Homo sapiens: one gene and its partners. The protein of the gene in region 3 purifies or fractionates together with the protein of the main gene of each other region. This does not show direct contact. Each region holds a gene or a part of one and is shown on either strand. Other genes may lie near its edges.

What was found.
Region 1: the proteins of B3GNT2 (region 3) and PAM purify together in Homo sapiens (affinity purification with mass spectrometry; 3 studies listed by BioGRID and IntAct, with this or other methods). This does not show direct contact.
Region 2: the proteins of B3GNT2 (region 3) and FAM3C purify together in Homo sapiens (affinity purification with mass spectrometry; 4 studies listed by BioGRID and IntAct, with this or other methods). This does not show direct contact.

The regions. Positions count from the first base shown.
Region 1 is NC_000005.10:102,758,228-102,761,985, forward strand, and holds part of PAM (peptidyl-glycine alpha-amidating monooxygenase isoform e preproprotein), read left to right. Parts: intron 1-3,758. UniProt on the Homo sapiens protein: Bifunctional enzyme that catalyzes amidation of the C-terminus of proteins. Alpha-amidation is present at the C-terminus of many endocrine hormones and neuropeptides and is required for their activity.
Region 2 is NC_000007.14:121,348,348-121,351,436, forward strand, and holds the end of FAM3C (protein FAM3C precursor), read right to left. Parts: intron 2,923-3,089; coding exon 2,796-2,922; intron 2,204-2,795; coding exon 2,114-2,203; 3' UTR 531-2,113; downstream 1-530. UniProt on the Homo sapiens protein: May be involved in retinal laminar formation. Promotes epithelial to mesenchymal transition.
Region 3 is NC_000002.12:62,198,998-62,202,755, reverse strand, and holds part of B3GNT2 (N-acetyllactosaminide beta-1,3-N-acetylglucosaminyltransferase 2), read right to left. Parts: intron 1-3,758. UniProt on the Homo sapiens protein: Beta-1,3-N-acetylglucosaminyltransferase involved in the synthesis of poly-N-acetyllactosamine. Catalyzes the initiation and elongation of poly-N-acetyllactosamine chains. Shows a marked preference for Gal(beta1-4)Glc(NAc)-based acceptors.

The DNA of each region.
Region 1 (3,758 bases), on a different chromosome or scaffold from region 3:
GGAAGAATTTATCTATCTGCTATGTGCAGAATTTATTAGGCTTTACATACTGGGCTTTGAGGCTTTGATTGGACTCTCACATTAAGGCATGGCAGGCTGAGGGGCAGCCTGAGGGACATAATGTTAACTTTACACTTGGCTTTATTGTTCCATACCTTTGTTTTTCTATTTGTGAAATGAGATTAAAGATCCTTCTTACTGCCCTGGAAGCCGTGTCATCTGGTATAATAGCCATAAATGCTTCTTGTGTGTATAAGAACTTTCTTTACCATTTGAATGCGAAAGCTAATTATTAAAACCACATACAAATAGCTCAAAAGATGGGCTGTGAATAAAGCTGCTGTTGGTGTCATGTGCTCTCAGGTATCCTGGCAGAAATTTCAGTCATCATGTATCCCTACAATTTACTGTGTTGTGGAGAATAAGGCCTTCATTTTATCTGGGGTTGAATGTTTACCTCTCCAAAATGGGAATAATGAAATACTAACCTGAAAGGACTGTTGTCAGCATTAAATGAGCTAATCCATGTGTGGTTCTTAGCACATTGCCAGTATACAGCTATTGCTCTATGACTCAAGTAGTTATTTTAGTTTCTCCAGGGTAGGGGGAGGGGGGAAGGAATGGAATTTCAGTGGTCCACATTTTAAAAATGAATACATATATAAAAATATAAATACACTCTTCCCCAATATTTTGAAATAGCCATTCCTCAGCTAACTTTTTTCATTCATTTATGCAACAAGTGTTTATTCAGCCCACACTAAACGTTTGGCTTTTTCCTAGGCACTGACATACAATGGTATACAAGACAGTTATAGTCACTTTCTTATGACTGAAAGGTCTAGAGAGGGATGCAGATCTGTAAACAGAGAATTATAAATTTATAAAGAAAATTTTTAAAAAATTATAATGCCATATGATTCATGCCATGATAAGGGTAGTGAAGAGAACCTCAGAAGATAGGATAGCAGGGTCCTGGGTAGGTGAATGTCACACAGTGCATCATCTCATCCTAATTGGGTTGGTGGTGGTGAAGGAAAACTTCCTAGCAGCATGAATACATGAAGACCTGAAGCATGAGTGGTAGTTAGCAGCTGAAGAGGTGGGAAGATTGAAAGAGACCAAAGGGAGCATGATGCCTTAGAATGGAAGTCAGGCAGAAAATGTTAAACAATACATAGGTAAGAGCAGGAGGGAGAGGCGTGGCAATCTGGAGAATCCAAGCTGTCTAAAGGGAAAAGTAGATACTCATTTCAGCCAAGTATTGTCAGGTTGGGATGCAGGCCAAGTGTTGCCAGATGCCTTGATTTCTAAAGAGGAGCTTAAAATTCATATTTTATAAATATGAAATCTCCCAAATATGAACTAACCCAAATGTTTTAAAAACTATTCTGTGGGCCAAACCAGACAAATCTGTAGTTGGAATTCAACCTAGGGCCACCACTTTATGACCTCTACATGTAAGAAACTGAGAGGAGTTTAATGTGGCTAAAGGCATAAACCTTAAACGGACAAGCAAGGGAAGCACTGGCTTTGTGGAACTTGCTAAGGAGGGGTGGCCTAATTCTAAGGACAGTGGGTGACATTGAAGACTGAAACAAGATGAGATTTGTGTTACAAGATGCAGTCTAGCTACTGTATAGAGAATGAGTGGGAGGAGGCAGTGGTGGAAGAAAGATAACCATTTGGAAGCTTACCGTGGTCATAGGAAGAAATTAAGTGTGGCTAAAAGCAAGGTATTCAAGCAGGTGGGAGATGAGTGGATTTCAGAGATATGTATGATACCCCTATGTTGGGATTCAATTCTCCATTAGTCACTCAGACTTTTGCATGTCTTGTGAGCAAAGGCATTTACTGCTTTCATCCCAGACTCTCTTAAAGACATTTGTATGGTAGATAGTTTTGGAAGATAGAGGTATTCTTTCCCTCTGAAGCAAAGGGCAGGTAGGTTTTACTGTCCAGTTTAAAAGATTCAAGTACCCTAAGCTCAGGGTTCCCCTCTGACAATGCAGATCATCAAGTATCTGCTTCACATCACATGGGGGGAACTGAGTTTCAGGACATTGGCACAACTATGCTGATACTACTGCTACTGATATTTTTGTGAGTAGTATAGTCCTTTGTTTCTCACCCTAGAATTTTCTGTCTTCTTCCAGCATCCCCATGAAACTGTGGCACCCTGATTTCGTTAGCCTGCAAGTAGGATAAAAATCTCAGACCCTTAATTATTGATAGCCACTAGCCACATTGTCTGTTTAAATTTAAGTATAAATTAATTAAAAATGGAATACGATTTTAAAAATCCATTCCTCAGTTGCAGTAGCCACATTTCAAATGCTTAATAGCCATACAAGGCTAGTGGATACTGTACTGGGCAGAGAAGATATAGAAAATTTCCATCATTGCAGATAGTTTTATTGGACATTGCTGGTTTAAAGCTTCAAATTTTGTTTGTGTTGGTGAGTGAGTAGAGACAGTAGAAGTTGTTGATTTCGACAGCATAAAAATGATGTTTGACTTCATGTTAGATTCACAGGAGTCCCTTTAATACAAAGAAAATATTTCTGTTTGGATAACCTATACAGTACTTAGTTCAGGCCTCTTGGGGAAAAGAAAAGTGGAAAAGTATCTACACTGTCAATTTGGAGACTGGGCAGACTGGGACCATGTAGCAACAGAAGTTCTACATATAAACAGCGTTACTCAAATCATGTGTGATTGTGAGATTAGGATCTGTGCCCAAAGGAGATTGAACTGCTGAACACTGTCTTGAGCTTTGTCTACTAACCATGCTTAACACAAAAGGACAAGAATTGCATGTTAACAGTGAGGGTCTGGAGCATAGCCAGTCCAGCAGCACCTCGGCAGTGCCTGCTGCAACCCAGCTGTGCTGGTGTGGTCTCACAGAAAGGATGGAGGACAGGAACAAGATTTCCAGATGGCTCTTGTTCAGGGAGTTTAAGAGGGTAGCTTCAAGAAAGGAGGGAACTGGACTCAAAAAATATAAAACATAATACTTTAAAGTACAACTTTAAATGACACCGCAGAATTAAGGAAACAATCAAAGCAGCAGATCTGCTTCCCTATCAGATAGGAGAAGCTCATTTTGTAGAGAGTGTGGGCCACAAGTACTGGGAAGCAAATGCACAAAGAATAATAGGTCCAGCCAACAGTTGCAGTAACAAAGGACGGTTTTTACCTGCATTGAGTGTACAGTTCACTGCTGCATGTACAACATAAGCAAAACAAAAACAGTGGTAGAAATAAATAAAAGTAAAGTCTGAGGCCCTTATGGAAGAATCATACTACTACCTGCTTTTTCCGTGGCTAAAAATGCCTTATAAATTTCATATCTTGAGAATTTCACTTATTTATGCCAAAGTAAGTTTGTTTTAAAATAGTACTCATTTGTAGTGCAGTAACATTTTACTTATATAAAGATTAATTCAAGCTTTTAAAAGTCTGAAGTTTAGAATATTTTAAAGATAGAATTTATTATTTTTAAGCACTTATGTTATCTTTTAGAACTCTTTTGAAGGGAACTTTTATGAAGATATTAGTTAATTTTGAATAGCATGATAATTGTTGCATGTAACTGGAGGCTTCTATAGTGTTTAAAGAAAACTTTTTGTAGGTTATATGTATACCTGTTATTTACATTACTAATTACATCAACAAATCCTTATTTTCATAGACATTCCTTTCAAATTCAGTGAATTCTGGGAGAGCCGAGGTCATATGCTATTAGGGTTTGTATA
Region 2 (3,089 bases), on a different chromosome or scaffold from region 3:
TCGGATTACAAATAAAAAATATGCATCGATAAGCCCATAAGCACCATTTCAAATACTATGTCAATGTTAATTTGATTTTAATAAAGAACATTCTTAATATTAAATGAGCACTGTTTCATGTCTAAAACCGATTTTAAAGAGGTATCTGAAAATGTAGTATAAAGTTATTGCTTTCAAAGTTAAGTTGGCACAATCTATACAAGATTGAACTGAGACAAAAGGAAACCACACCAGTTAACATAACCAATCTTTGTCTTCTTTTAACATTTTATATATCTGGAAAAGCTATCCTTTTACAGTCTTAATAAAAGGGCTTTTTCCGCCATCTAGATACTTAGCTTCTTACATGTTAAGACACATCTAGGATATTACTATTTTTAACCACAGCAACAATTTTTTTTCCAAGTTAGGCAGTATAATAAATGCTTGAAAAACCTTGTGTGAGTTTTTGTGAAGTTCTGTAGGTATATTACTTTGCCAGATAATACAAAAAAAAAAAAAAATTCACAAAGCAAAACCAAGAGTATTTATTTTCATTATTTTAAAAAACTGCAACATTTATTTCACAATCCCTGGAACTGTAAAATAACTATTCTTTTAATTTACAGAATTGAGGGAAGTATTTTAAATGTCAAAATACACATGCTGAATGTGATTTAGCATATAAGCACCAAAAATCCCAAAAGTATACAAAGATTGTTTAAACATATAAGGTGCATTTATTCATGAATTAATTACATTCAGTTTGAAGGAAGAAACAGTACTCCAAAGTTCATCAATATTTAAGAAATTATCCGAATAGCTTCCAACTTGGTTTACAGCTAAATAACAGATACTGCTTTTAGGTTTTTTTATACAATGCATCTAAACTTTAGGTTCGAAATTTAAGTGCTGCCTTACACTGTGAATGGCAGTTTGATCACTAAATTTATGTTCCAGTTTGAGATACTTCATACACAACATATATTTAATGCCCTGAAAACTTCTGCTTAAAAACTGAGTTATTTAGTGAACATCTGAAGGTAACAAAAAAAGATAGATCTTCTATATTTTTATGTAGAATTGGGTATAAAGTCATTTGGGGTCAAACACAATTATTTTTTAAATGTTATCAGTCCGCCCAGTAATAAGAACTTTTGTAAATATGCCACTATAGCTTCGGGCAATAATTGCTATTATGAAGTTAGATAAACACAGGATTAATTTCTTGGTTTACAAATCAAAATTATTGTGATATTAAAGCATGCCTCCTTCCAAACCACTTGGTCAATGCTGATAACAATTAAGAAAAACGTATGCTAGTATTGCTCTAAATATACTGACTTAGCTGTCCTGAATGACCTAATTAGGTTGGGGAGGGGACTTGGCCTGGTTCTCCAGTTCTGTGAAGCTGCCACCTCCAGCCTCACTCTAAATAGCTTATACAAAATCAAGTTATTCCCATAGCTAACACAAATCCAGCAAGCTGTGGTCCTAAATGCCATCTACATTTATATATTTACTTTTTTACTGTGTACATTAAGAATTTTGTTGTGCTTTTCACATATCCGATGTATGTTTTCATATTAAACATTCCTCAGTTTCTTGGGAAGGAAAGAAAAAGATCATGAAAAGAGGTACATCAGGAGAGTCGGACTGTAAAGTAACATTACACACACAACTAGCCAAATCTCTTTTTAATTTAAAAGATAATGTCATCACAACGCAACATATAGAAACATAAAAGAAAATAAAGTATCCACCCTAAAATCCCTATTATTCCATGATATTTTCATAGCAACTAGTATATATATCAATATATTTTTCACAAACCATTCAGTTACACATTGTGTATGCTTTTAGAATTTAAAATATGTATTACCATAGCAGTCTAAACATTGTACTTTTAGGGAAATGTGCGGAGACATGGTTCAGTGATTTGATCATTGTGATGATTATTTACAATGCTATCTATTTACGTTAGCAATAAATAATCCTGATATCAAAAGAGACAATACTCATGCACACACCAAGATGGCTGCATGCTCTTAAAATATTTACACATAGCTCTGCCATTTATAGCTCTCCCATTAAGAGTGAAAGTGCGCTTTCTTCAATTCTCTCCACATTTCCATTAGTCTTGCTTCTGGGGGATGCATCCTTCCATTTCTACAACTTCAGGCCATCCTTCATATTTGTTTGTATCCTTATTGTTCTTTATGTGCTATTGGAACACAGTAATAATATACAGTTTAAAAAACCGTTGTAAACTGCTGATTTGCCGTAACATTTTACACACTTCTCATTTCAGTAATACTCATGTCAACAATAAGTTCATTTAAATTACTGGTCAAGATATTAAATGAGTGACCCTCAGGCTGTATCACATACATGGCAGACCTTCAAATAACAGCTGAAAGAATACATTGCACGTGCTTTTAAAGGATTATTTGCTACTCAAAAACTAACATTTACATTCTACTAAGTTCTAAAATATTTCCAAACTTCACTGATTCTAAAATCCAAAGCTCAATTAAAATCCTTAATAACTAAAGCTTCCGAAAAGGCTTAAGATAGGTAATCCTATTCCAATGCATTGTCCTGTAGGAAAAAATATTCCCATGCAGAATTTTCAAGTTTTGAAATTTAAAAGTACGATAGTTATTTCAAATAACTGATTACCAAGAATTTATGACAAATATATGATCATATTTACTATCCGCTTTATCTAATTTTCAAATAGCTGGGATGGGAAAATGTACCGTAAGGTTTCACAGAATTTGTTTTTGTTAATTCTGAGAGTCTATGACACTAACCTGTTCAAAAGGGCTTTTTGTCTTAATGCCCTTCCCACCACAGAAGACCCAGTTGTCTCTAAAACCAAGATTAGTAATAGATGTGCTCCCCAAATCAGCAATGAGCCGCCGTGCCTCATCATTGAGTCTTGAAGAGGGAGAGAAAGAATACAACAATAAACAGAGGGAACTGTATGCTAATACTGGTTCACTGGGATATTAACACAAAACATGAGACAAAATGAGACTTTAAATAACAGAACATTTTGGAAAATAATTTTTTTTCAGAGTTACATTTCTACTGGTTGAATTCTT
Region 3 (3,758 bases):
TCAAGTCATTTCAGTTTTTAAAGGATCCCTCCAGCTTCTTTCTGAGAGAAACTGGTAGGGGGCAAATGGGAAGCAGAGAACGCAGGGACTGCAATGACCTGCCCGGGGTCAGGCTCGCCTCATTCACGCTCAGGCCCATCTTCCTCAATGCAAGCCTGGCCATAACTTGTCAGCACCCACACCCTCTCTCTCTCTCCCCTGACCACAAGAACTTTCACTGGTTCCTCACTACCTCCATAACTATTAACTGCCACATCTCTGCATGATCCCCGAGATTGCATCATGGCCTATTACACCTTTCTAAGCACCATGCACTCCAAACCCAATGGATCACCTGCTGTTTCCCCAAAAGACCTCTATGAGCCTTTCTGTTGTGTCCTGTTTTCTCAGCCTACAATCCCTTGAGCACTTCTACCTTCCTTTCTCTGCCTCTGAAATGTTATTCACATCCTTCAAGACCAAGCCCAAAGGCCACTTCCTTAAGAAGCCTTTCTTGGCTGCCTCCAACACATAATTGGCTTACACCTCTACCAAGGCAATCTTACCAGTTCCTGGCTGTCTCCACCACACTGCCCACTGAAGGCAGCAATCACGCACAGCCAAGCACAGTGCTAGGCACACACCAAGTGCTCAATCAATGCGTGTTTGGTCGGAGAACAAACTGCTCACTTCACCAAACATCTTGAGGTCTTAATGGAGAAGTATTCCAGGGCAGGTTTTCCGTGTTGGCTACTGTAATCTGGAGACCAGGGGACCCTCTGATGGAGTCTCTGGGGACTGTCTGCTCAGCACTAACAAAGGTACAAGTAGGGACCACAGTGTGGACAGATTTGAACTTAGGCCTACGAAGACTCTTGCCTTCTCTGCTAGACATCTCTAAGCAGGCCCATATTTTGTTTTAAATTTCCATAAAGTATTGGAAGTATGTTTTTCCTAAGGTCATTCTAGAAGTGTACAAAAGAAGAAATGAGCACTTAGAAGGACCCACATCAAGTTAATGTAGTTATAGTGGTGAGAGAGGGTGGAATTAGTTTTATTTTCCTTTACTTTATCTTGAATACTTTTTCTAAATAAACATTTAATGAAAGTCATTTAGAAAGAATGCCAAGTACTACCCAAGTTACATTTGCAGAATGAGTCCAAAAATGAAAAGTACCAAACAAATAAGGAGACATGAGGCCATGGAATTATGTAATACCGCTTACACGGTAAGATTACAAGAGCTGAAAATGTTTTAAGTGGCTTGTCTGAAGCAAGCAATTAAAATAATTGGTCCTGTGCTTTCACCTCTGAAATAATTATTTCACTAAACATAAAGCAGATGTTGTGAGCATCTTGGGCACTTATTGATGACTCTTACCCAAACTAAACTCTTCCACAAGCTCCATAATTGACCATAAACCAGTTCTCATCACTGCATCCTAGCTCATGTTACACAGGTGGCCAAACAACTCTGAATGGGACATTTCAATGACTGTCTTTAGAGAGGAAATGTCAAAAACAGGCAACTAACAAATAATACATCTTAAAGCTAAAGCTATATCAACAAAGTATTAAATAAAGATTTGTCTTCTAATTTTCAATAAAAGACCTACAGAACTTTTAATGAAATAGCTCATTTAAACACAAAAGATCTAGTTGCTTTAGTTATCACCCTGTTAAAGAAATAAAAAGGGGAAGAGGAAACTGCAGTCAGGCACAGTGCTAGGTATTCTAGGTGTAGCTTTATATTACTTTCCCCAGTAAATCTAACATAGGGCTTTATCTTCCCCATTTTACAAGTGAGAAAATTTATCCTGAAATAGTTCGTGTAATTTTAACTTTAGGCATTCCCATACGTAACTGAGACTCAGATTAAATAACTTGTCCGTAGTCACACAATAAGTGGTAAAAATAGAATTCAAGCCTATTTCACAAAAGACTACATGCCACACTGTATGACTGATTCCACTTACATGAAGTTCAACAGGTAAAACCCATCTATGATGACAGAAGTCACATCTATGATGATGTAAGAAAGAATAACAGTTCCTTCAGGGTGAGGGGGTGGGAACACGGACAAGACATGGGCGCAGGAACCTTCTGCAGTACTGAAAATGTTTATTTCTTAATCTGAGAGCTTACATACATGAGCTCATGCTTAATATTAACACTTCTCACACTTTACTGCATGTTATACATGAAGTTAAAAAAATCCTCATCTTATGGACTCCAAGTTTATGCTCTTAACCACTAAACCACCACATGGCACTCGGACAGAATCTAGCCACATGCCAGAATTGATTACCTTGGATTATCATTTTTTTCAAACATTCTGGTAAGCTACGTACATCCTACTCATATCAGAATGAAGACACCTGAACCCTCTGTTTTAAAATGCCACAGAATGAAAAGTAGAAAGTATCAATTTCCTGGCTACTGGGAATTTCCCCCTCTGTAGCCACATCAGAAAATGGTTTTTGTTTTTTTTAAGTTATAGATGCACAGAAAATAATGTGTAACATTCTTAAAGTTATATATGAAAATACCTAAAGCTAAAATTGCACAAGATACATGTTATGACTCTCAAAAGACATCTGAATTTTTGTTACAAAAATTAAGACAAGGCAAAAAGACAAAGCTGGTGGGCAGAGGTTGTTAATACTCACAGGGCAACACACAGAGGGCAAAAATCTCAACTCTTAAAATTTGTAACAAATAGAAAACTCAGTACAAATAACTTTTTCCAGCAGCAAAGTAATTGTGCCACATAAGCCCTAATAATAAATTCTCCATCAAGTAACAGGTTCCAGCCTGGCAAAGTCTCCTTACCAGTGAGTGATGATGAAATCATTACATCAATTCTCCCAAAACCTTACCCCACACATACATACACCTCTTATTCAAACAGTAATTGCCTCTCCAGAGAGAGGAATGTATTCATTCTGTAATTTGCAGACATATTTGGCAAGTACGTAGGAACAGCAATCCCACCTTAGAGAGTGGAGAAAAAGACAGCTGGGTCCACACCTTTTGGGTGTTTGTGCTGTTTTCTTTACTGGATGCAGCCAGGAAACATTTACCACTTCAGAGTCTAGTTTAATTCATGTTTTAACCTTCTGTACACACCAAAAATACCAAGCAACCAAATGACTTTAGTTTCCCCTGGGCACTTACATAAGAGACCAAAAGGCCTTTATGAGAATCTTTCAGTATTGGTGATGTATGTACCACCATCAGGGATGTTGCAATAGATTACACATCACCAAGTATTATCCTAGTTGCAAGATCTCAAGGTCTCAATGTTTATAAAAGTAACCATAGGCAGTTATTAATTTTTAAAGTCTCTAACAGACTTTCCAATAAAACCATCAAAAAAATACAGAAAAATACAGTCAAATACTACATCCATTAACCAAGTCAGAAAGAATGAAAAGCACTGACCCAGTATGTCAAGAGTATTAACAGCTGTGGATCAGCATCCCTAAATTAGGATTTTCATGAAACCCTAGCATTGCTAGAAAACATTTAAAGCTAAGGCCAGGCGCGGTGGCTTACGTCTGTAATCCCAGCACTTTGGGAGGCCTAGGCGGGTGGATCACCAGGTCAGGAGTTCGAGACCAGCCTGGCCAACACAGTGAAACCCTGTCTCTACTAAAGACACAAAAATTAGCCAGGCGTGGTGGTGGATGCCTGTAATCCCAGCTACTGGGGAGGCTGAGGCAGGAGAATCACTTGAATCCAAGAGGCAGCGGTTGCAGTGAGCTGAGATTGCACCA